Linked DNA regions of Homo sapiens. The protein of the gene in region 5 purifies or fractionates together with the protein of the main gene of each other region. This does not show direct contact. Each region holds a gene or a part of one and is shown on either strand. Other genes may lie near its edges. The genes, in order: PFKFB3, DAZAP1, ETFB, STK38, CAPG and KHDRBS2.

The links.
Region 1: the proteins of CAPG (region 5) and PFKFB3 purify together in Homo sapiens (affinity purification with mass spectrometry, with the first as the bait; one large-scale study listed by BioGRID). This does not show direct contact.
Region 2: the proteins of CAPG (region 5) and DAZAP1 fractionate together in Homo sapiens (co-fractionation; one large-scale study listed by BioGRID). This does not show direct contact.
Region 3: the proteins of CAPG (region 5) and ETFB fractionate together in Homo sapiens (co-fractionation; one large-scale study listed by BioGRID). This does not show direct contact.
Region 4: the proteins of CAPG (region 5) and STK38 purify together in Homo sapiens (affinity purification with western blotting; one study listed by BioGRID). This does not show direct contact.
Region 6: the proteins of CAPG (region 5) and KHDRBS2 purify together in Homo sapiens (affinity purification with mass spectrometry; 2 studies listed by BioGRID and IntAct, with this or other methods). This does not show direct contact.

The regions. Positions count from the first base shown.
Region 1 is NC_000010.11:6,219,932-6,223,431, forward strand, and holds part of PFKFB3 (6-phosphofructo-2-kinase/fructose-2,6-bisphosphatase 3), read left to right. Parts: intron 1-726; coding exon 727-934; intron 935-1,449; coding exon 1,450-1,596; intron 1,597-1,709; coding exon 1,710-1,814; intron 1,815-2,923; coding exon 2,924-3,053; intron 3,054-3,500. UniProt on the Homo sapiens protein: Catalyzes both the synthesis and degradation of fructose 2,6-bisphosphate.
Region 2 is NC_000019.10:1,406,254-1,410,385, reverse strand, and holds the start of DAZAP1 (DAZ-associated protein 1), read right to left. Parts: upstream 2,801-4,132; 5' UTR 2,613-2,800; coding exon 2,584-2,612; intron 2,502-2,583; exon of another isoform or gene 765-2,501; coding exon of another isoform or gene 307-764; intron 1-306. UniProt on the Homo sapiens protein: RNA-binding protein, which may be required during spermatogenesis.
Region 3 is NC_000019.10:51,356,389-51,359,888, forward strand, and holds part of ETFB (electron transfer flavoprotein subunit beta), read right to left. Parts: intron 1-3,500. UniProt on the Homo sapiens protein: Heterodimeric electron transfer flavoprotein that accepts electrons from several mitochondrial dehydrogenases, including acyl-CoA dehydrogenases, glutaryl-CoA and sarcosine dehydrogenase.
Region 4 is NC_000006.12:36,516,480-36,519,979, reverse strand, and holds part of STK38 (serine/threonine-protein kinase 38), read left to right. Parts: intron 1-2,139; coding exon 2,140-2,263; intron 2,264-3,500. UniProt on the Homo sapiens protein: Serine/threonine-protein kinase that acts as a negative regulator of MAP3K1/2 signaling. Converts MAP3K2 from its phosphorylated form to its non-phosphorylated form and inhibits autophosphorylation of MAP3K2.
Region 5 is NC_000002.12:85,403,867-85,407,366, forward strand, and holds part of CAPG (macrophage-capping protein), read right to left. Parts: intron 1-3,500. UniProt on the Homo sapiens protein: Calcium-sensitive protein which reversibly blocks the barbed ends of actin filaments but does not sever preformed actin filaments. May play an important role in macrophage function.
Region 6 is NC_000006.12:62,276,226-62,279,725, forward strand, and holds part of KHDRBS2 (KH domain-containing, RNA-binding, signal transduction-associated protein 2), read right to left. Parts: intron 1-3,500. UniProt on the Homo sapiens protein: RNA-binding protein that plays a role in the regulation of alternative splicing and influences mRNA splice site selection and exon inclusion. Binds both poly(A) and poly(U) homopolymers. Phosphorylation by PTK6 inhibits its RNA-binding ability.

The DNA.
Region 1 (3,500 bases), on a different chromosome or scaffold from region 5:
AACAATCCTTGATGACAAATCATATTCAGTGGGAATATTTTGAACACTGTGTAGAAGTACAGGAAGTCAACATAGAGTTGAGCCTGATTTTGCTACTGTCCCTCCGATAGTTCCTTTCTTTTTTCTTTCCTTTCTTTCCATTTATTTATTTATTTATTTACTTACTTACTTGCTTGCCTGCTTGCTTAGAGACAGGGTCTCCCTTTGTCTCCCAGGCTAGAGTGCAGTGGCATGATCATAGCTCACTGCAGGTTCAAACTTCTGGGCTCAAGTAATCCTACCGCCTCAGCCTCATGAGTAACTGGGACTACAGGTGTGGGTGTCCACGCCCAGCTAATTTTTTTTTTCTTTAGTAGAGATGAGGTCTTGCTATGTTGCCCAGGCTGGTCTTGAACTTCTAGACTCAAGCAATCCTCTTGCCTCGGCCTCCCAAAGTGCTGGGATTACAGGCATGAGCCACTGCACAGGCCCCTTTCTTTTTTTCTCCATTTTCTTTCTTTTTTCTCCCCCTTTTCTGGGAGGCAGGCCAGCCTCACAGCCAGACACCAGCTGTGGGAGTTGTCTTACGCATATGCTCTGCCCCTTAGAAGGATTCAGTCTGTGCCCTGGAGGGGCCTACGGTCCCGCCTTGCTGTTCTCTGGGGATCACATCTTCGGAGACGGGCCAGGTGCATCCTGCTGTGGGTGGTGGCCTGAGCTGTGGTTCTCGGTGGGGTCTCTCTGCAGGGACTTGTCGCTGATCAAGGTGATTGACGTGGGCCGGAGGTTCCTGGTGAACCGGGTGCAGGACCACATCCAGAGCCGCATCGTGTACTACCTGATGAACATCCACGTGCAGCCGCGTACCATCTACCTGTGCCGGCACGGCGAGAACGAGCACAACCTCCAGGGCCGCATCGGGGGCGACTCAGGCCTGTCCAGCCGGGGCAAGAAGGTGCGGGGTGTGCTGCCGCATGGGCCGTTCTGGCTGTAGGGCGGTTGCAGGGTCTATAGGGTGGGTGGGGAGCTGTGTGCTGCTGCTGCTGCTGCTGCTGCTGCTTGGTGTGCTTGCTGTGTGTGTTATCTGTGTGTGCGCCTGCACGTCTCTATGCATATCTGTGTGCATCTCTGTATGGCTCTGTGTGTGTGTGTGTCTACGCCTATCCATGTGGCTTTGTGTGTGTGTGTCTTTGTGTTACTTTGTATGTGTTTGTATGTGTGTCTCTGGTGTGTGTATCTCTGTGCATGTGTGTGATGTGTGCGCGGTTGTGCACTAGGAAGGGAAGGGGCAGGAAGAGCTGAGCCTGGTCTCTGGGTAGGGTGTGTGCGGCTGTGGCTGTCCCAGTGGCCTGGGGCCCCCACGGTGTAACCAGGTAGTGCACAGCCCTACGTGGGCTGCCTGCTCCAGCCCTGGCTCTTGGAGGAGCTGCGGGCATCTGGAATCAGTGGTCCCCCTCCACCACCTCTCAGTTTGCCAGTGCTCTGAGCAAGTTCGTGGAGGAGCAGAACCTGAAGGACCTGCGCGTGTGGACCAGCCAGCTGAAGAGCACCATCCAGACGGCCGAGGCGCTGCGGCTGCCCTACGAGCAGTGGAAGGCGCTCAATGAGATCGACGCGGTGAGTCCTGGGAGGCGGGCAGGCAGCCTCACCCTCGGGCATGGGGCGGCTTCCCAAGAGGCCCTAGACACCCCTGTGGTTTGTTCCCCTGAGTGACCACTGGGTCCCCGCAGGGCGTCTGTGAGGAGCTGACCTACGAGGAGATCAGGGACACCTACCCTGAGGAGTATGCGCTGCGGGAGCAGGACAAGTACTATTACCGCTACCCCACCGGGGAGGTGAGCGCAGGCTGGGGCGGGCTGACGGTCCCCAGCACACATGACCACTGCTGTGCAGGGCTGGGCCACCCCTCCAGGGAGTTCACTTCCGTGTGGGTTCTGGGGGCTCCTACACCCTCCACCTTGGAACTGAGTCCCCCCAAACTGAACCTTCTAACAGCCTGGGGTGAAGTGCATTTTCCCATAAGCAGAAGTGAGATGTGTTTCCCTAGGGACATAGAACTATATGGGAGAGGAGGAAGGTGGTGTGTGAAGGTCCACTGGGCAGGGTGGTGGGCAGGCTGGCAGGAGGGGTGGCTCTATATCCCCTGGGCAGCGTCTGTGCTTCCCCGTGCACGGTGCCCGGGTGGCTGTGGCTGAGGACGCTGTTGCCTCCTCTGCCGATGGGATCCTCCTGGGCCTGGTGTGTCCTCCCTGCCCGTGCCCTGCTGAGCAGTGTCGTGCCTCAGGCCCCTGCAGGCCCACTGTCCTCTGGCCTCAGACTAAGCCTTACACACCGGGGCCCTGGTTAGCACAGCAGAGAGCCCACAGGAGCAGGAGCTTTTCTGGTCTTTTTCTAAAGTCACAGCCCTCCTGCTTCTTTTTACATTTTTAAATTGATAGAAAATACACATAACCTAAAATTGACCACTTTCATCACGTTAAAGTTATGATTTAGTGCATGTTAGTGTACTCACAGTGCTGTGCAGCCATCACCACAAATTCCAGGCCTTTCCCTCACTGCACAAAGAAACCCAGACCTGTTAGGAGCCGCTCCCGCCTGCCCGGCCCAGCCCCGGCACCGGCCCGTCTGCTTCCTGCATCTGGATCTGCCTATTCTGGGCATTCCATGTCAGTGGAGTCAGATGCCACACGTGCCTTTTGCGCCCAGTTCTTTCACACAGCATTGAGTTTTCCAGGTTCCCCCGTGTGGGAGCGGAGTGGGGAGGGCTTCACTCTTTTTGTGGCTGAGCAATAGTCCACGTTAAACCCTGCTCCTTCTCAACCACTGCTGATGATGGATGATTGATTTTGCGTGGCTCTCTGGCCGGTCTGATGCAGTCTGTGGCCAGCGGCAGAGCCCCTCCCGAGTGCCCTGAGCTCACGTGGGCCCGGCCCTCTGTGCTCAGTCCTACCAGGACCTGGTCCAGCGCTTGGAGCCAGTGATCATGGAGCTGGAGCGGCAGGAGAATGTGCTGGTCATCTGCCACCAGGCCGTCCTGCGCTGCCTGCTTGCCTACTTCCTGGATAAGAGTGCAGGTACCTCGGGCAGGTCGTGGCCCCGGGATGGAGGGAGGAGGGGACTGGCACTCGGCGGGGGGTCAGCCGCAGACCTGCCGTGGCCTGCCCTGTGTTGGCTGCTGTGCCATGGGGTGTTAGGAGAAGGGCACAGGTGTCGGCTCCCGGCTGCTTCAGGTCCTCTCTGTCCAGCGCTTCCTTGAAGCCCTTGGGAAATGCTGTGGAGCCCAGGTTGATGCCGGGGACTTCATTGCTTCATAAACAGCTCCCTGAGACCCGCCCCTGGCTCCACACATCCCAGGGTCTTGGCTTGGGGTGGGGGCTGCACTTCTCTTCAGTGCCCTCTAAGGAACAAACAGCCCGGAAAACTCTGACAATCCCATTGAAATGTTAAGTCTTAGCATGTCCAGTCCAGTGCAGCTGAATCCCTAGACAGACCTAAATTGTTTGGGAGTGACTTTTTCCCAA
Region 2 (4,132 bases), on a different chromosome or scaffold from region 5:
TCCCAAAGGAGGACACTGTCCATCACATCCACCATGTAGGGTCCGCGTGCCAAACCCACCAGGATCCAGAGAGGGACTCCCCACACCCCACCACACGTATGCGCTTCCTCCTGCATGAAGCCCCCCTCAAGCTGACTGGAAGTCGGTGTGTGTAAGGCATCCGTTATCACCGGCAGGCCTCAGCTGACTTTCATCCCCCATCAAGCTTTACATGGACTTCTAAGCCAGCACAGGGACCCTCAAAACTTGGGACGACTTCTCAGACTCAAAAGCAGAGCTTCCCCCAAGGATGGCTCCCTAACCCACCTTCCAGGTGTGGATTCCCAGGGCAGCAGCTGGACGGCCACAAGTGTCCCAGAACAGGGGGCTCCCAAGCTCCAAGTCTCCTGAGGCGTTGACCCCGCACCCATGCATGCTCCAGGCCCAGCCCTCCAAGCGGGGTCCGGCGGGATCTCCTGCCTCCTCCATGGCAGTGAGCAGTGAGGGCTCTGCATCAGGAAGAGGGAGCTCCTCAGGCTGCCGAGCCCCCCCAGTGGGTAAGGGACACCGCAGACCCATGGCGTCCTGAGAGCCGCCATCTGCCGCAGAGAGGGCCTGCTTCCATCCAAGCTCAGCACCCTCCTGCATGGCACCCACCGCACCTGCAGGGGACTTGCCAGGAGGGCGCTTCGCAGGGTCACAAGCATTTCACGCACACAACAACTCCACACAGCAAGATCAGAGCAGACCGTGGACTCCGCATAGAATGGAAGCCGGTCTCCCATGCGACGGGCGGCTGTGGCAACACTTCTTGCCCAAGGAGTCTGACTTAGAAAGCAGTGGACACTCCTGGCAGCCGGGGAGGAGAGCAGGGTCCATGCACTCCAGTTCTCCTCCACGCAGCCCGTGGCGTCCGGGTGGCCTGCGAGCCTATTTGTGCTGTGGGTGGGACCCCTCCAGACCCAGGCTGGGACCCCAGCTGCCCCACTTCCCAAGGGTGTCCATGCAGGGAGGGGACAGGAGCCCTCACCTCTCTCCAGCCTCCTCACAGCCACGGCTTGGGTGGAGCGGGCCCACGTTCACCCGCGGCTTGAATGGACCTAATCCAGGTACCCCATCTGGGAGCCCTTTCCCTGCCTCACCCCAAAGTCGATGGCTCCATCCCCCATGGCCGGTGGACTCCCTGCTCAGGCCCATCCCTGCAATGTCCCTCACACAGGCACACGGACCCTGCCAAGTCAAAGTGCCTGGAGAGGACTCACAGCACGGGCTAGGCAGGGGCTAAGTGCTTTCATCCTGGTTCTCCAACGGAAGGTGCTCTTTTGTTTTGTCTGGGGAGGGGGAGAGCCCACAAAAGGCATTTCCCATCCACAAGTGTGACCTGTAGCTGGTGCGAGAGGCGCCTGCCAAGGCAACCCTCTAGCAGCAACCGCTCCCGCACTAGCCAAGCCCAGCGCTGAGAACACAGGGCGCTGCTCAAAGCTAAGGGCACCGAGAAATTTACACCAGACCACTAGGAAACCCAACCCAGACTGTTTTGCCGGAAGAATGCAACTCTAAAACGACGTCGCTGCGGCAGGAGCCGCTCCTACCAAAGAATGGCGCCGAGCCCTGGGGCACAGCGAAATGAGGTTTCCCGGCCCCGCGGGGTCCGGAGCAGGTCAGGCTCCTATAGGAGGGGACGCCTCGGCGCAGCAAAGATCCGCGGGCCCGTCGCCGCCTCGGAAGCGCTGACTCTCCCTTCCGCAGCTCAAGCCCACCCCCGGCGGGGAGGCGCCGAGGCAACGTAAACACAGCAGGCCCCGGCTGACCCGAGCCCCCTGGGCCCTGGGTTTGCGAACCCCTCCCGACCTTACCACTTTGGGGGGGTGGGATGGGAGCGGGGAGCCCGGAGCCCCGAGTGGGATAGGTTGGGCGGTGGCAGAACCGGAACCCTCGCCTCGGCTCGCCACGTGCGCCGCCCGCCAAGTTTGGGCGCGCGCTGGGGGCGCCCCGGACCACCCCCCACGCCACAGTTTGGGGTCCCCCTGGCCAGGAAGCCGGGAGGCGGCGGCGACGGCGCCCTGGACTCCCCGCAGACTCCCTCAGGTTCTCATTCGGGGTCCCCCAGGCCAGGAAGCCCTACAGGCGGCAACGGGGACGCTCCAGACCCCCCCAAGTTCCCGTTCGGGGCCGCCACAACCAGGAAGCGGCGGCGGGGGCCCCTGAACCCCTCTGGCTCCCATTCGGGGTCCCTCAGGACGCGCAGTCGGGAAGCGGCGGCACGGGCGCCCCAGGACACCCCCCCAGGTTGCCGTTCGGGGTTCCCCCGACCAGGAAGTCTGGAGGCGGCGGCGGGGCCCCCCGGACCCCTCAGGCTCTCCTTCAGGATCCCCCAGGACGGGAAGCCGGGAAGCGGCGGCGGGGGCGCCAGGACCCCCCCAGACCCCGGGCACCCGTCCAGGGCCCCCGGCGCGAAGCCGCGGCGAGTCCGGGTCCCGAGTCCGCCCCCGGCCGGCGTGACCTTGACGGGGCGGCCCCGGGGGGCGGCGTCTGAGGCCGGGCGGCGGGGAGCGGCGGGCCGGGCTCGGGGCGGAGACGCAGGCCCGCGCCGCTCGTCCTCACCCGATCTCGTCGGCGCCCGAGTTGTTCATGGCGGCGGCGGCGGCGACGCTCGGCGCTCCCGGGCCTCCTCGCTCGCTCCCGCCTCCGGAAGGTCACCCGCTCCGTCGCCCTCCCCACAGCCGCGGCCCGGATCTGCGCAACGGCGGCGGCGGCGGCGGCGGCGGCGGCGGCGGCGGCGGCGGCTGCCTCCTCCCCTCGGCGCCAACGGTCACCGCGCGTCCCCGCGCCGCCGCGCCGCCGCCCCTGCGCACGCCCGGGCGCGCTCCCGCACGGGGTCTCCGGGGGCGGGTCCAGGGGTACTCCGTCTGTGCGTGCGTCCCTGAGGCGGATTTCGCGCCGCCGCAGTCGGGGCCGTCGCGCGTTTTCCTTTCTCCTCGGAGGCTCCTGGCGTTGCCGCGGGGCACGCTGGGAAATGGAGTCCCTGCGCTGGCCCCGCCCCTGCAAGGGGAGGATGCGCGCGGGCCGAGCCACGTGCGTGCGTGCGCGCGCGTGCGGGCTTGCGTGCGCGTGCGCGCTTGCGAGACCGGCGCTCCGGGCTAGGCACTGTGGGCGCAGGCGCGGCTGCCGCTTCCTCTTTAACTCTTCACTCGGAAGCGGTGGAGCCGCGTGGGGCGCTGCGGGGAGTGGGAGTGTACCCGCCCGCACCCCAGGCGGGCGGACGGAGCGGGAACGGCACGTGAGCGTCCCGCGCGAGGCTCCTTCCCCTGTCCGCATTTCACAGAAGAGGATCCCGAGGGTCCGAGAGGCTGAGTCACTTGGCCAAGGTCACCCAGTTCGGGGCTGAACTGGAATCAAATCAAAACAATTAACTAAATTCAATGACTATGAAAAGATATTATTGACCCCCCCCCCAAGTGCTATTACTATTAATAGCCAAATACTGTTTTAGTTGCATCTGTTAATTGCATACATCAGTGGTTCTTCTTCTGGGTGACTTTGCCCCCTAGGGGATAACTTGGCAATGTCTGAAAACACGGTTTTGGTTGTCACAACTTGAGTGCGGGGTGCTGCTGGCATCGAGTGGGTCCAGACCAGACATGCCGCTCAGCACCCTGCAGTGCACACGACGACCCCCCAAAAAGAATGATACCCGTCCTCCAATGTCAGCAGAAGGAGGTGGAAAAACCGGTCTAGGCTGACGGTAGTAAACAGGTGACCCGCAGGGTTTTGTAAAACCGGGTACGTGCTGCCTACTGCTTTTCTCCTTAATCTCACAGCACATTGACAGCCTGATCGTTTGGTTTATTCATCATCACAGAATTAAATAAATACAAGGAACAAGGCCGGGTGAGGTGGCGCACGCCTATAATCCCAACACTTTGGGAGGCCGAGGATCAATTTAGGTCAGGAGATCGAGACCAGCCTAGCCAACATATATAGTGAAACCCCGTCTCTACTAAAAATACAAAAGAAAATTAGCCGGGCGTGGTGGTGGGCGCCTGTAATCCCAGCTACTCGGGAAGCTAAGGCCGGAGAAATGCTTGAAGGCAGGAAGTAGAGGTTGCAGTGAGCCGAGATCGCGCCACTGCACACCAACCTGGGCAACAGA
Region 3 (3,500 bases), on a different chromosome or scaffold from region 5:
CTCTGACATTTTCTACCCTTTTTCGGAAAAATGCCAGCCCTCTGCCTGGATGTCATGATCACACATGGTCACAACCTAATTTGGAAAACACCAGCATGAAAGACCTCTTTGCTAAACAGACAAGGGAGGTAAGGGAGGTGGGTGGCAAACCCCACCCATTTGCTTCTGCACATCATTTTTGTCTCTCCTGGGCCCCACTGTGTGCCTGGCTCTGAGCTGGATCCTGGGGACACCATCATGTGCCAGGGAGAGAGGCTTCCGGTGTAGACCAGGGTGTAGCGTGAACCACTAACCACTCTCCTATTAGTTTCTCTCGGCTGCCGTAACAAATCACCATATATTTGGTGGCTTAGAATCTTACAGCTCTGGAGGCCAGAAGTCCAAAGTCAGTGTCACCAGGGTGAGACCAAGGGGTCTGCAGGCCCCGGGAGGAACACGTTTCTTGCCTCCTCCAGCTTCTGCTGACACTCCCTGGCTTGTGGCTGCATCGCTTTATCTTCAATGCCAGCATCCTCAGCTCTGTCTTCACGTGGCCTTCTCCTCTCTCTGCGTGTCTAGTCTCCCTCTGTCTCTCTCTTATAAGGACTCTTGAGATGGCATTCAGGGCCCACCTAAATAATCCAGGATAATGCCCCCATCTCAAGATGCTTAATTTAATCACATCTGCAAAGACCCTGTTTCTAATTTCTTTTTTTTTTTTTTTTAGATGGGCTCTCGCTCTGTCGCCCAGGCTGGAGTACAGTGGTGAAATCTCGGCTCACTGCAACCTCTGCCTCCCGGGTTCAAGCAATTTGCCTGCCTCAGCCTCCCAAGTAGCTGGGATTACAGGCATGCATCACCACGCCTGGCTAATTTTTGTATTTTTAGTAGAGACAGGGTTTCACCATGTTGGCCAGGCTGGTCTTGAACTCCTGACCTCAGGTGATCTGCTCTCCTCGGCCTCCCAAAGTGCTGGGATTACAGGCATAAGCCAACATGGCCAGCCTGCAAAGACCCTGTTTCTAAGTGATTTCCCCTTCTCAGGTGCCAGGGATTGAAACCTGGCTGTTTTGGAGGGCTATTTTATTTCTTGGCCCACCACAATCCTTTTTTTCTTTCTTTCTTTTTTTTTTTTTTTTTGAGATGGAGTCTTGCTCTGTTGTCCAGGATGGAGAGCAGTGGCATGATCTCAGCTCATTGCAACCTCTGCCTCCCCAGTTCAAGCGATTCTCCTGCCTCAGCCTCCTGAGTAGCTGTGATTACAGGTGCCCACCACCACGCCCAGCTAATTTTTTGTATTTTTAATAGAGACAGGGTTTCACTATGTTGGCCAGGCTGGTCTCGAACTCCCGATCTCTGGTGATCCACCCACCTCGGCCTCTCAAAGGCAGGGGATTACAGGCGTGAGCCACCGCTCCTGGCCCAACCTGAGTTTTTATAAGGTCATTCTGGATTCTTGGTGGAGAAAATTGGAAAAGGATGAGAGGAAGTGGGGAGAGAGCTGGGTGGCTGTTTGTCACCAAAGTGAGAGGTGACAGTGGCTCAGACAGCTGTGACAGCAGAGACAGATGCAAGAGGTTTCTGGAGGTGCAACTGACAGGCCATGGTTCGTGATGGGAAGATGACACCAAAAAGGGGCTTCCAGTCAGTACATCAGCCAGAGCCGGGAAGACGGCGAGTTTGGTTTGGGGCACAAATTTTTAAAAAGCCTCCAGGGACATCCACAGAAGCCTTGCTAGGGAGCTGCCCCATTTGGCCTGGAGCCTGCCCTCTTCCTCTTCTCCCATGTGGCCGCCACCCAGGGCTTGGCCAGAGCAGATCTCGGGTGGCAGCTGAGCCTGGTGAGGACACTGGGATGCTCTTGCTATTTCCCTGCCCCTTTTTCTCTGGGGCTGTGGGTGTAACTGTTCCTCCCACAGGCAGGACAGAATCCGAGATGAGAAGGTGGGACCCATAAGGGGCTTCCCACTCTGGCTGTGCCTCATGGAGAGGGTAACATTAAAAGATGGAGGACTGAGACCGGGCGCAGTGGCTCCTGTCTGTAATCCCAGAAATTTGGGAGGCCAAGGTGGGAGGATCACTTGTGCCCAGGAGTTGGATACTAGCCTGGGCAACAGGTTCTACAAACAACAACAACAAAAACAAAAACAGCTGGGCGTGGTGGCTCATGCCTGTAATCCCAGCACTTTGGGAGGCCAAGGTGGGCGGATCACCTGAGGTCAAGAGTTCAAGACCAGCCTGGCCAACATGGCAAAACCCCATCTCTACTAAAAATAAAAATAAAATAAAAAATTAGCCGGGCATGGTAGTGCACGCCTGTAATTGCAGCTACTCAGAGGCTGGGGCAGGGAGAATTGCTTGAACCCAGGAGGTGGAGGTTGTAATGAGCCAAGATTGCGCCACGGCACTCCAGCCTGGGCGACAGAGCAAGACTCCGCCTCAAAACAAACAAACAAACAACAACAAAAAAAAAAAAAAAAAAACAGCCAGGTATGGTGGCACACACCTGTAGTCCCAGCTACTCAGGAGGCTGAGGCGGGAGGATCACCTGAGCCCAGGAGGTCAAGGGTGCAGTGAGCCGTGATCATGCCACTACATGTAACCTGGGTGACAGAGCAAGACCTCATCTCAAAAAAGAAAAAGAAAAAGAAAAAGGAGAAAGAGGAGAAGGAGCTGGAAGAGGAGAGGAAAGAGAAAGAACTGTTATTTTCATCTCTCTCGTTGCCCAGGCTGGAGTGCAGAGGTGCCACCTTGCCTTACTGCAACCTCCACCTCCCGGGCTCAGGTGATCCTCCCACTTCAGCCTCCCCAGTAGCTGGGACCACAGGCGGGCACCATCATGCCGGGCTAATTTTTTTTTTTTTACTTTTTGTAGAGAAAGGATTTCCCCGTGTTTCCCAGGCTGGTCTGGAACTCCTGGCCTAAAGTGATCCGCCTGCTTCAGCCTACCAAAGTGATGGGATTACAGGTGTGAGTCGCAGTGCCTGGCCTTTTTTCTTAAAAAAAAAAACACAACATAGGAGTTGCCCCTTTAAGACAGAAAAGAACCTCATCCACCCATCAGTAAGAGGCCCCAAGCTTCTTGCTGTGAGTCAGGGAGGCTTCTGAAGGGCCTCAAGCCACATCTTGCTCTTGCTCTGGCAGAACTCCCAGCCCTAAGCTCCTGATTCCCAGGCTCCTGACTCCTGAGGAGAAAGGGTAAGAACTTTCCAGACACACACACACACACGCACGCACACACACCTGAGGAAACAAACTAGCTCATCTTCTCAATTAAGCTTGAGTTGATTTTAAGCTTCAAAAACAGTTTAGTTATATTACATAAGTCAGGAAACAATGGTAGGGCTGAAAAATGATAGCTTGTTTGTTTTTTAAATAATGATGGCTCATGCCTGTAATCCCAGCACCTTAGGAGACTGAGGAAGGAGGATCACTGGAGCCCAGGATTTCAAGACCAGCCTGGGCAACATAGAGAGACTTCATCTCTACCAAAAAACAAAATTAGCAGGTCATGGTGGCGT
Region 4 (3,500 bases), on a different chromosome or scaffold from region 5:
TTTTACTAAATAAACTGGGTAGGAATTAAAGCTACCCACTGAGAGTTCAGGTTATTTTTCTGCTCCACGTGGTGGAAATTTTTGCTACCTGGAAAAATTTAAAGGGTAAGACATGACATCTAACTAGCTTCTGATGTTTCTCTTCCAGTGCAAAAGGAAAACCTTCAGTTGTGATGCCAGTATACAGTTATTGATGGGACAAAAAACTGGCTTTTATTTCTGCTTTCTTAGGGCACAGGATAGCAACTAGCACCCCCCACCTTATTAAATATTTATGGAATAGGGGAAAGAGAACCTTTTTGTATAAATTGCACCTCAGACTCTTCCCTCCCTTAATCTATATTCAGCCAACTCCACTTTCAAACCATGAGGTTTCTTGCTACTGTTTCAGCCTCAAGAGAAAGGCAAGGTGTGCTCATGGTAGCTTTCCCCTTGACAAACAGGAAATGTTATGGGCACCATTGTGTCCTCCAGGGTGAGTGACAAGTGGTAATTGTAGTGCCTCTCCTTTTCTCTGGCTCCCTGCAGTAGGTAGGGAGCTTAATGGGAGCCAGGGGAGACAGGCAGATGAAGGCTGCCTTCTACTGTATTAATGTCTTGTAGTGACTGGGTCCTAGCCATGGCTGTGGGGCAGCAAGCAATGTTACTGTTTCCCAAAAGCTTTGCTTCTGTATTAAGGTCAAGTAAAGGCAGATGCTTTACTTGGTTTCATTGTGTTTCATAGCACTGTTTCTTTTCACCCTTATTGTCCATTTTTTCCCACCCCAATACCATAAGTACAGATGTAAAGATGTAGGTTTTCTGTACAGTTGCAGCTTTTAAAAAAATTCCCCAAAGAATGATTTTAGTAGATACTGAAAACTCAAATACATAAAGTCAAATGCCTCTGGGCCTCCAAGAGTTAGCATAGAAGCCTGAAGCAAGTTAGATATAAGACCAGGGGAGAGGGTGTTGAAATGGAAGAGTAATGGAAGAGTGCCTTGTCTCCCTAAAGACATGTCAATAAAACAAGCATCATATCAAACATTGTATTAAACCAAACAACAGCCATGGACTAAATTTGCCAACAGCCATGGACTAAATTTGCCAATTTGTGAACCTTGGTACATGTTTTACTTCAGAACATGTTGTAAAAAGTCAAGACCTGTAGCATATGTTAAGACCAAAACCACTATTCAGGGATTGGACTGAGTCTTAATAAATTTAGATCTGAATCAACCCAATTTAGACCTTGTGACACTTAAAAAAGAGGGGAGGGGCCAGGCATGGTGGCACACACCTATAATCCTAGCTACTTAGGAGGCTGAGGCAGGAGGATCACTTTAGACCAGGAGTTTGAGGCTTCAGTGAGCTATGATCACGCCACTGCACTCTAGCCGGAGTGACAGAGCGAGACCCCATCTTGTTTTAAAAAAAGTGTGTGTGGGGGGGATTTGATAATATGCAGTGATGTTTGATTACTGTTCTGCATTTAAAGTAAATAAGGTAAATTTGATAATAAAGCATTGCTTTAACAAAATAATTCCGGTTCTCTGAAACTTTCTACAACTTGGTCCTTTATAGGTATTTCAGTAAAAGTATAAAATTGGAAATGTCATTAATTTGAATCTACAACTTTTCATAGGTGTTCTTGTATTTCAATTCAGTAAGGATTGATTGAGCACATAGCAGTGAACTAAATGCTGTGGTATCATAGCATTCTAGAATTTGTCAGTGAGCTCACTGTTGTTGCAGATACTAGTGCAGACCCGAGGAAGAACTTGGAAGAGAGTCTCACTTTGGGGACTTATTTTTATCATAAAAGATTATTAGACAAAACTCTATGCAAAAGAGTAGTAATTTTAACTAATCAGAGATTCAGTTTATAGCAGTGTTAAAGTTGCTATTTGCATTAAAGCCATTCATTTTGCCATTTTTTAAAGCCTTTCATCACTCAAGTTTTCATCACTGAATACCTTGAAGTCAAATGTTGTCAATTTTGAGTTAGTAGGTTTGCCTAAGCAGAAATTGGATCTTTTATATCATCACGATTAAATACTCAAAACAGTATTTAAGCACAGTATTTAAATTGTTTAAGCAAATATACAATCTAATAAAGCAGAGCAAGCTTTGTCATTAATCAAATGCATATACCTCCAGGTTGGCCACATTCGTGCGGAGCGTGACATTCTAGTGGAGGCAGACAGTTTGTGGGTTGTGAAAATGTTCTATAGTTTTCAGGATAAGCTAAACCTCTACCTAATCATGGAGTTCCTGCCTGGAGGTAATTACTTGACGATGAAAGGTCATTTTTTCTTTTTGTTCTGTGGTTTCTTTCTCTCACATCACGATTAACCCTCCTTTCTACTTTTAAATGTGCTCACAAAGTTGCTTTCTATATCCTTTTTTAGGTCTATAAAGGAAGTCAGTAACCTGTCTTGTGCTGGGGTGCCTTTCTACAATCTTAGTACCATAAAAGTAACCTGTTAATTCATTTACATGATTTCAGATGGACATTTCTTTCTTTTCTTCTTCTTTTTAAAATATATAGGAATAAATTAGGGTGCTCTGCCTGCTCTCCTGTCAATGGGAATCATATATGATCAATAACCCAAGTGACAACATTGAAGCTATAACATCCTTTGCTCCAAATTTTTGTTTCTTTTTGTATAACATATTAATAAGGAGTGAATTTTTTGTTACCCATATTAGTAGCCAGAAAAAATTTCTCATTTCTGAAATTTTAAGTTTTATGTAACTCAGCATGAGCATCTCCTAAGACAGCTCCAAAGTAAACCCAGAACAGAACATGCCATCTGTTCTGAGGAAAGCAGTCTGTTTGTCAGTGAGCAGATGAACTCTGAGCAAACTCTGGTGGGAAAAAAAAAGAGAGAGAACTTTTTTCTTTTTTGTTCCTATAATTGTGGCATAATATTTTGATTTTGTGACAACCCTTAGATTTAGGGTCATCAATACTTTTTAATAAAGAAACACATTTAATAAAAAATAAACAGTTGATTAATGTTAGAAAAGAGTCTGGTAGAATGAGGAGAAACTTTTTTAACATTTAGATGCTAGTTCTTAAATAAGAGTAAGAGCCAACTTGGTTACCAGCTCCTAACGTGTCCTCAAGCCTCAACCTGTACCATCTTCCGTAGCTTCTCATGTCTCCTGGACCCTGCCCTTTGCACTTGGTGGAGCTGGCCTGCAGAGCCATAGAGCATCTGGCCTGAGCTCTCCAATCATCTGGGCAAACTTGCACAGGCGAGGCCCCATTGACTGCTCTCCTGAGCCACAGAACTAAGGCCGTATAGCTACCTTACTGGGGTAGCAGCCCAAGTGCACTGTCTCCATGTGTCTGGTGGGTCTCCAGATTGAAGGGCTGCCAGGAGTGATTAGGAAATCATATTTTTTAAGTATTGGACTGAAAAAGAGCACTTTAATAAATGGTTTAATTTTTGCCTGAGGGAAAAATAGCTACTTTTCTCCAATAATACAAAACATAATGTTCTAAATGAAAT
Region 5 (3,500 bases):
ACAGAGTGAGACTCCATCTCAAAAAAAAAAAAAAAAAAAAAAAATTAACAAAATTTTAGCAAATGAAATCAAATAATATATAAAAAATAAACCATGATGACCAAATGAGGTTTATCCCAGGAATGCAAGGTTGGTTTAATATCTGAAAATCAGGGTGATGATAGCTAATAATAATGCAGTGTATATTTCAAGATAGCCAGAAGAGAGGATTTGAATGTTATCATCACAAAGAAATGATAAATGTTTAAAGTGATGGATATGCTAATTACCTTGATTTGATCATTATACAATATATACACATACATTGCATATGTACAATGAAACATCACACTGCTCCTGCTAAGTATGTGCAATTATTATCTGTCAATTATAAATTTAAAATAAATAAATAAAGCCGCTCACAACGCAAAAAAAAAAAAAACAGGCCAAAATTTGAAAATCAATGCTATACACCCTATTAACAAACATGTATGTGTAATCACCTCAATAGATGCAGAAACAGCATTTAGCAAAATTCTACATTCATTCCTAGTTTAAAATTTTTTCAAGCCTGGGCAATATAAGGAGACCACAACCCTACAAAAATTTTAAAAATCAGCCAAGGCCAGGTGCAGTGGCTCACACCTGTAATTCCAGCACTTTGGGAGGCCGAGGTGGGTGGATCACGAGGTCAGGAGTTCGAGACCAGCCTGGCCAACATGGTGAAACCCTGTCTCTACTAAAATACAAAAATTAGCTGGGCATGGTGGCATGCGTCTGTAATCCCAGCTACTTGGGAGGCTGAGGCAGGAGAATTGCTTGAACCCAGGAGGCAGAGGTTGCAGTGAGCTGAGATTGTGCCACTGCACTCCAGCCTGGGTGACAGAGCAAGACTCTGTCTCAAAAAAATAAAATAAAATAAAATAAATAAAAATCAGCCAAATGTGGTAGTGCAAGCCTGTAATTCCAGATCCCAGCTACTCAGGAGGCTGAGGAGTGAGTATCGCTTGAGCCCAGGAGATAGAGGCTGCAGTAAGCCAAGATCATGCCACTGAACTGCAACCTGGATGACAGAGTAAAACCCCCTCTCAAAAAAAAAAAAAAAATTTTTTTTTTACCCACAAACTAGGAATAGAAAGAAATTTCCTTAACCTGTTAAAAAGGCATCTATTAAAATACAACAAACAAACAAAAACCCTTCACCTAACATTATATTTAATGGCTGCTCTAATTCTAAACTCCCTCCCTGAGAAATTTCACCCACTCCCAGGCATCAGCTATCAATTCTGTATGCCCAGCTTCCCTCAAATGCCAGAATGATGAACACTTTTTCTGGACAAAAGTCATTCAAGGGAAAAAATGCTAAACGCAAGTATTTTTTAAAAAGATATTATCTTTTTAAAAAATTCAGAAAATGCAACAGCTACGGCTCCACTCACTGTCGCTTTCATAGGTTCCCATCACTAGAGGATTTCTTTTTTTGGCTCAAAATGCAGAGATCACAGAGCCAGCATGCACTTCGTACATAATACAATTCATGCTGTGCATCCATTTGGACAGAGTTTGTGTAAGATGAGCCCCAGTGGCACAGGGTAAGGGCTTGGGGAATTGGAGGGTAAAAATGCAAGCTGGCACCATTAGGAGATTCTTGGGGGCTGGGGCAGCAGGATCAGGAAGTGCAATATTTCGCAGGGGCCAGGGAAGTCAGGGGTAGGGGGAAGGCAGATGACAGAGCAGAAGGTATTAAGTCTGAGTAGGAAACAAAGAGGGACAGGTCAAGGGCAGTGATAATGGATGTGAAATGCTGTGTGAATTATGACTTTCCTTTTCCTTTCCCAACCTACAAAATAGTGGAAGGCATATTTTGGCACCACGATTCCGGAAGAGGACATGCAGAGAGCAGAGGTTTGCGGAGGGAAACTTTAACGTTTCTCCATCCCACAGAGGATCACATGCTGTGCCCACATCCCCTGCAACAGGCAGCCCAGCCTGTGACTCAGGCCTGAGCTGGTGAAGTGGCTGCCCCAAGCTCAAGCCATCAGGGAGCGCTCAAGAATGAGACACGGAGTGCGCCAATTGTCACCTTTACTATTTTTCATTCTGTGTTTAACTCAAAATCAGGCAGCCTACATGCCAGAGAGCCACATCAGGGTTTGGATGAAAGGGGTTTGGCAGGCCGGGTGCGGTGGCTCACGCCTGTAATCCTAGCACTTTGGGAGGCCGTGGTGAGCAGTTCACTTGAGGTCAGGAGTTCGAAACCAGCCTGGCCAACATGGTGAAACCCCGTCTCTACTAAAAGCACAAAAATTATCCGGAAATCACTTGAACCTGGGAGGCGGAGGTTGCAGTGAGCCAAGATCCATGCCACTGCACTCCAGCCTGGGCAATGGAGTGAGACTCGGTTTCAAAAAAAAAAAAAGAAAAGAAAGGAGTTTGGCTGCTCATTAGAATGACCTTGGGACCTTATTAAAATGTCGGTACTGACAAAGATTCTTTGCTTGGCCAAACTTTAACTAGGCTTCTGAACCACCCCGTAGGCCCATCTGTGTGCTTGTAAAATCCGGTTTTAGCAAAAGAACCCTGCTAAGGCCATTTACCTAGAACCCCCTACCCTTGATATCTGGTCGATCTGATAATCGTGGATATCTGATTGGGTTCCTCAACACCCTGCCCCCGCCGCCCCAGTGATGTCTGATCACTCTGGCCTGTATTCAGCAAGAATCCTGTTAGGGGCCGGGCACAGTGGCTCATGCCTGTAATCCCAGCACTTTGGGAGGCCAAGGCGGGCAGATCACCTGAGGTCGGGAGTTCGAGACCAGCCTGACCAACATGGAGAAACCCCATCTCTACTAAAAATACAAAATTAGCTGGGCTTCGTGGCTCATGCCTGTAATCCCAGCTATTCGGGAGGCTGAGGCAGGAGAATCACTTGAACCCGGAAGGCAGAGGTTGCAGTGAGCTGAGATCATGCCATTGCACTCCAACCTGGGCAACAAGAGCGAAACTCCGTCTCAAAAAAAAAAAGGAATCCTGTTAGCTCAGTCTAGCCAGAATCTCTTTACCCTTGATGTTTCCTCTTAGTAATTTTCTTTTTTTTTTTTTTGAGACAGAGTTTCACTCTGCTGCCCAGGCTGGAGCGCAGTGGCACAGTCTCAGCTCATTGCAACCTCTGCCTCCTGAGTTGAAGCAATTCTCCTGCCTCAGCCTCCTGTGTAGTGGGATTAGAGGCGTGCACCACCACATCTGGCTAATTTTTTGTACTTTTAGTAGAGGTGAGGTTTCACCATGTCAGTCAGGCTGGTCTTGAACTCCTGACCTCCAGTGATTGCCCACCTTGGCTTCCCAAAGTGCTAGGATTACAGGCGTGAGGCACTGCGCCTGGGCCATATTTTTTTTCTTTAACAGTGCCCAAGCCCCTGGTCTGGGGATTCTGATTCCACAGGTCTGGAATGGGGCTTGATCACCCATATTTTGAACATATGTTCAAAGTGATGGTAGTAGTGCCAGTGAATTCTGTCCAG
Region 6 (3,500 bases), on a different chromosome or scaffold from region 5:
CCAATCTGTTTCAAAGTTATTAAATTCTAATACCTCAGAACATACAGATAACATTTAAATCAAGCTATACTGTCTTCTGTTTCTGATCAAACGTAAAATTTGCTCACTTCTAAATGTTAAACAAAACCCTGACTGCCTCAAGACCCAAGAGAGGGCCTACAGTTGTTCTTTGCTTCTAGAAGAATTCAGCAAATGTAAGCAGTTCTCTAAAAAATGTGGGGAAAAAAATGCCTCAGCAAACCACACAAAATTATCCAATCACTTTTTGGGTCCAAAGAAGTCTGAAATGTTCCCTCTGCTCTGCCACCACATCACTAAGCTCTCTAAGAAGCAGTCAATGTAAGTCATTCAGAAAATGTAGTAGGCTGTCTTGATGATCCTTAATTCAATTCTATACTAAGGTAAATTCCCCCATTCATAAATTTATTTGACTTTTATAAGCTATACTTATATTTTATGATATCATATAATAATTCATCCAATATTTGTATTCAGAAACATATTTTAGAAGTTAATGGCAACAACAACATTGATCTTCTAGATAAAATGTGCATACTAATAGCTGACATTCTTTCAAAGCCTAACATTGGGTCTCTATCACAGGAGACAATGTGGTGTAATGGTTACACGTGGCATCTAGGTGAAAAGGCCTGGGTTTCAACTTTACAATTTCTTTGCTGTGAGACCTGATATAAATTAATTTATCTAAGCCTTAATTTGTTTAATTTGTAAAACTAATGCTAATAACTACACAATAAGGTTGGTGGGTAGATTACTTGTGGTAATGCATCGTCTAGTACAGTGTCTGGCAAAGAGTAAACTCAATAAATGTTGAGATGATGATAATGGTAATAATGATAAATCTCTCATTACCATAAACAACAGAAGTTATGACTTTCTCTGAATTCCTATATCAGTGGTCTCTAAAATTTCTGTAAAATCTATCAGACCTTCCATATACTTATTTATATCATATATGTATATATATAAATATCTGTCTATATATGTAGTTGAATCCCCTATAGATTATAAACCCCATAAATTAAACATTTGATACTTCATTTATTAATAGCACATATCATATGCAGTTTTTTGGGTTTTTCTGTTGTTTTTGTTTTGTTTTGTTTTGTTTTTGAGACGGAGTCTTGCTCTGTCACCCAAGCTGGAGTGCAGTGGCGTGATCTCGGCTCACTGCAACCTCCACCTCCCGGGTTCACACCATTCTCCTGCCTCAGCCTCCCGAGTAGCTGGGACTACAGGCGCCCGCCACCACGCCTGGCTAATTTTTTTGTATTTTTAGTAGAGATGGGGTTTCACCGTGTTAGGCAGGATGGCCTCGATCTCCTGACCTTGTGATCCACCTGCCTCGGCCTCCCAAAGTGCTGGGATTACAAGCGTGAGCCACTGTGCCCGGCCCATATGCAGTTTTTAACAACACACATTCAAGGGCATATGTGATTGTGTAGTCAAATGCAGTAGAGTACTAGTCTGATGGAATTAATCCTCCAAACTATAACTAAAATATAAGGTAAATAGCCTAATGCTTTTATGATTGTTTATTATCTCTCTATACTGCAAAATCTTTTTGGAAGTACTGTTATGAGTCAAATGGAGGATGTGCTAAAAATGACTTCTTTCCTCCAAAAAAGTTAATAACAATGGAGCAAGAGGATGCTTGGCCATGACCTCACAAGTATTTGGCAAATAAAAGATGCAATCACTACAGAACTCTGCACTTGAGAAGATGAGGAAGCCATATAATATGGATATTTGCTAACATTAATGTAGAATATCATCTATTAGTGGTTATTCCACCTCTAAAAAAATTTCCAAATTCAGTTTATTTTATTGGAATTCAGCAGTTTGTGGGGAATAGTACCAAATTTTGATCTATGAAATATATTAAATATTACACGGTTTATAGCTTTAAAAAATCAAACTGATGCCAGAATATAATTCCAATGAAGATATATTTCTCATAATATAGCCAAACCAAAAAGAAAGATCAAATTCAGTGCTCAAATAAGTGCAAAAGGAAAGCTGATGATACTACACAGTTATTTCCAGGGGTTTCTAAAAACTACCTCCAAACCTCACTTCCTCCCCTTGTACAGCTGCTGTGGGAACAAACAGCTTCACTATAGACTGTATACATAAAGAGAAACTGAGAATAATGATCAGTTATGTTCCCATTCTCAGGTACCAGGCCATAAAAAAACCTTAAAATCAGATAAATATAGAGAATACTACTGTGTCCATTATCTAGATGAATTTATCGTGGTCATGCTCATTCCTATATAACTAGTCAATGAAATATTAATATTAATGTACAAGGCCTAATAGTCAATCAAAAGAAAATTTCATAAAAATATAAATTAAAACACATAAATGAATGCGGATGGGACATTACAGATAAACATAAGAAGACTTTCTTTTCTAGAAAGTGGAAAAAAGGAGGCCAATTGTCTCAGTACCACAAGATTCGGGAATGACATTTCAATGGTTTTCTTAGATTTTCTTTGTGCCGCGTATGTGCCAGACTGAGTGCTAGAAAAGCCAGCAACTCAGAAGTATTAAAGGCAGACACGGCCAGGCGTGGTGGCTCACGTCTGTAATCCCAGCACTTTGGGAGGCCGAGGTGGGCGGATCACGAGGTCAGGAGATTGAGACCATCCTGGTTAACACGGTGAAACCCCGTCTCTACTAAAAATACAAAAAATTAGCCAGGCGTGGTGGCGGGTGCCTGTAGTCCCAGCTACTCAGGAGGCTGAGACAGGAGAATGGCCTGAACCCGGGAGGCGGAGCTTGCAGTGAGCTGAGATTGTGCCACTGCACTCCAGCCTGGGTGACAGAGCCAGACTCCATCTCAAAAAATAAATAAATAAATAAATAAAAATAAATAAAAAGCAGACACACACAAAGCCTCAATCCAAACAACAAAGAAACAAATGGGCAGATTCTCAGATACCTCACAGAGTAAAGAAGGACTTCCCTGTACTATCTTTCCAACTTCCTGCATATGAATAATTTTTCAAAATTGACTTAAAAACAAATGGAAACTTTCAAAGTGGCCTCCTGAGGTTTTGAATTATGCAAAGATAAAATATGACTGAATTAGTATTATCATTGTAAGTGACAGAATTACTGAAAAATTGTTTCTGGAGATATCTTCTAAACACATGGTAGGAGAAAAAGGAAGATATGAGGTCAGCATCATTCAGTTAAGAAACATTTATTGAGGCCTTCTACATATAAGACTGAAGGCAAGCATTAAAAATTCAAAGACAGAAGTCATAGTATGGCCCTCAAGCTTAGAGGGGGAGACAACCAAGATCAAAAAGAATTGCATGTTGCAATGTAGTAGTGGTGGATAGGTTGAAAATAAAACCAGAAGTGCACTTAATTTATAATGAATTAGATGAGAAGCCATTATGAAAGGCTTACTAGAAGAAGGAATAGCAGTACTCAGTTTTATTGGATGAAGATAAATTATAATCATG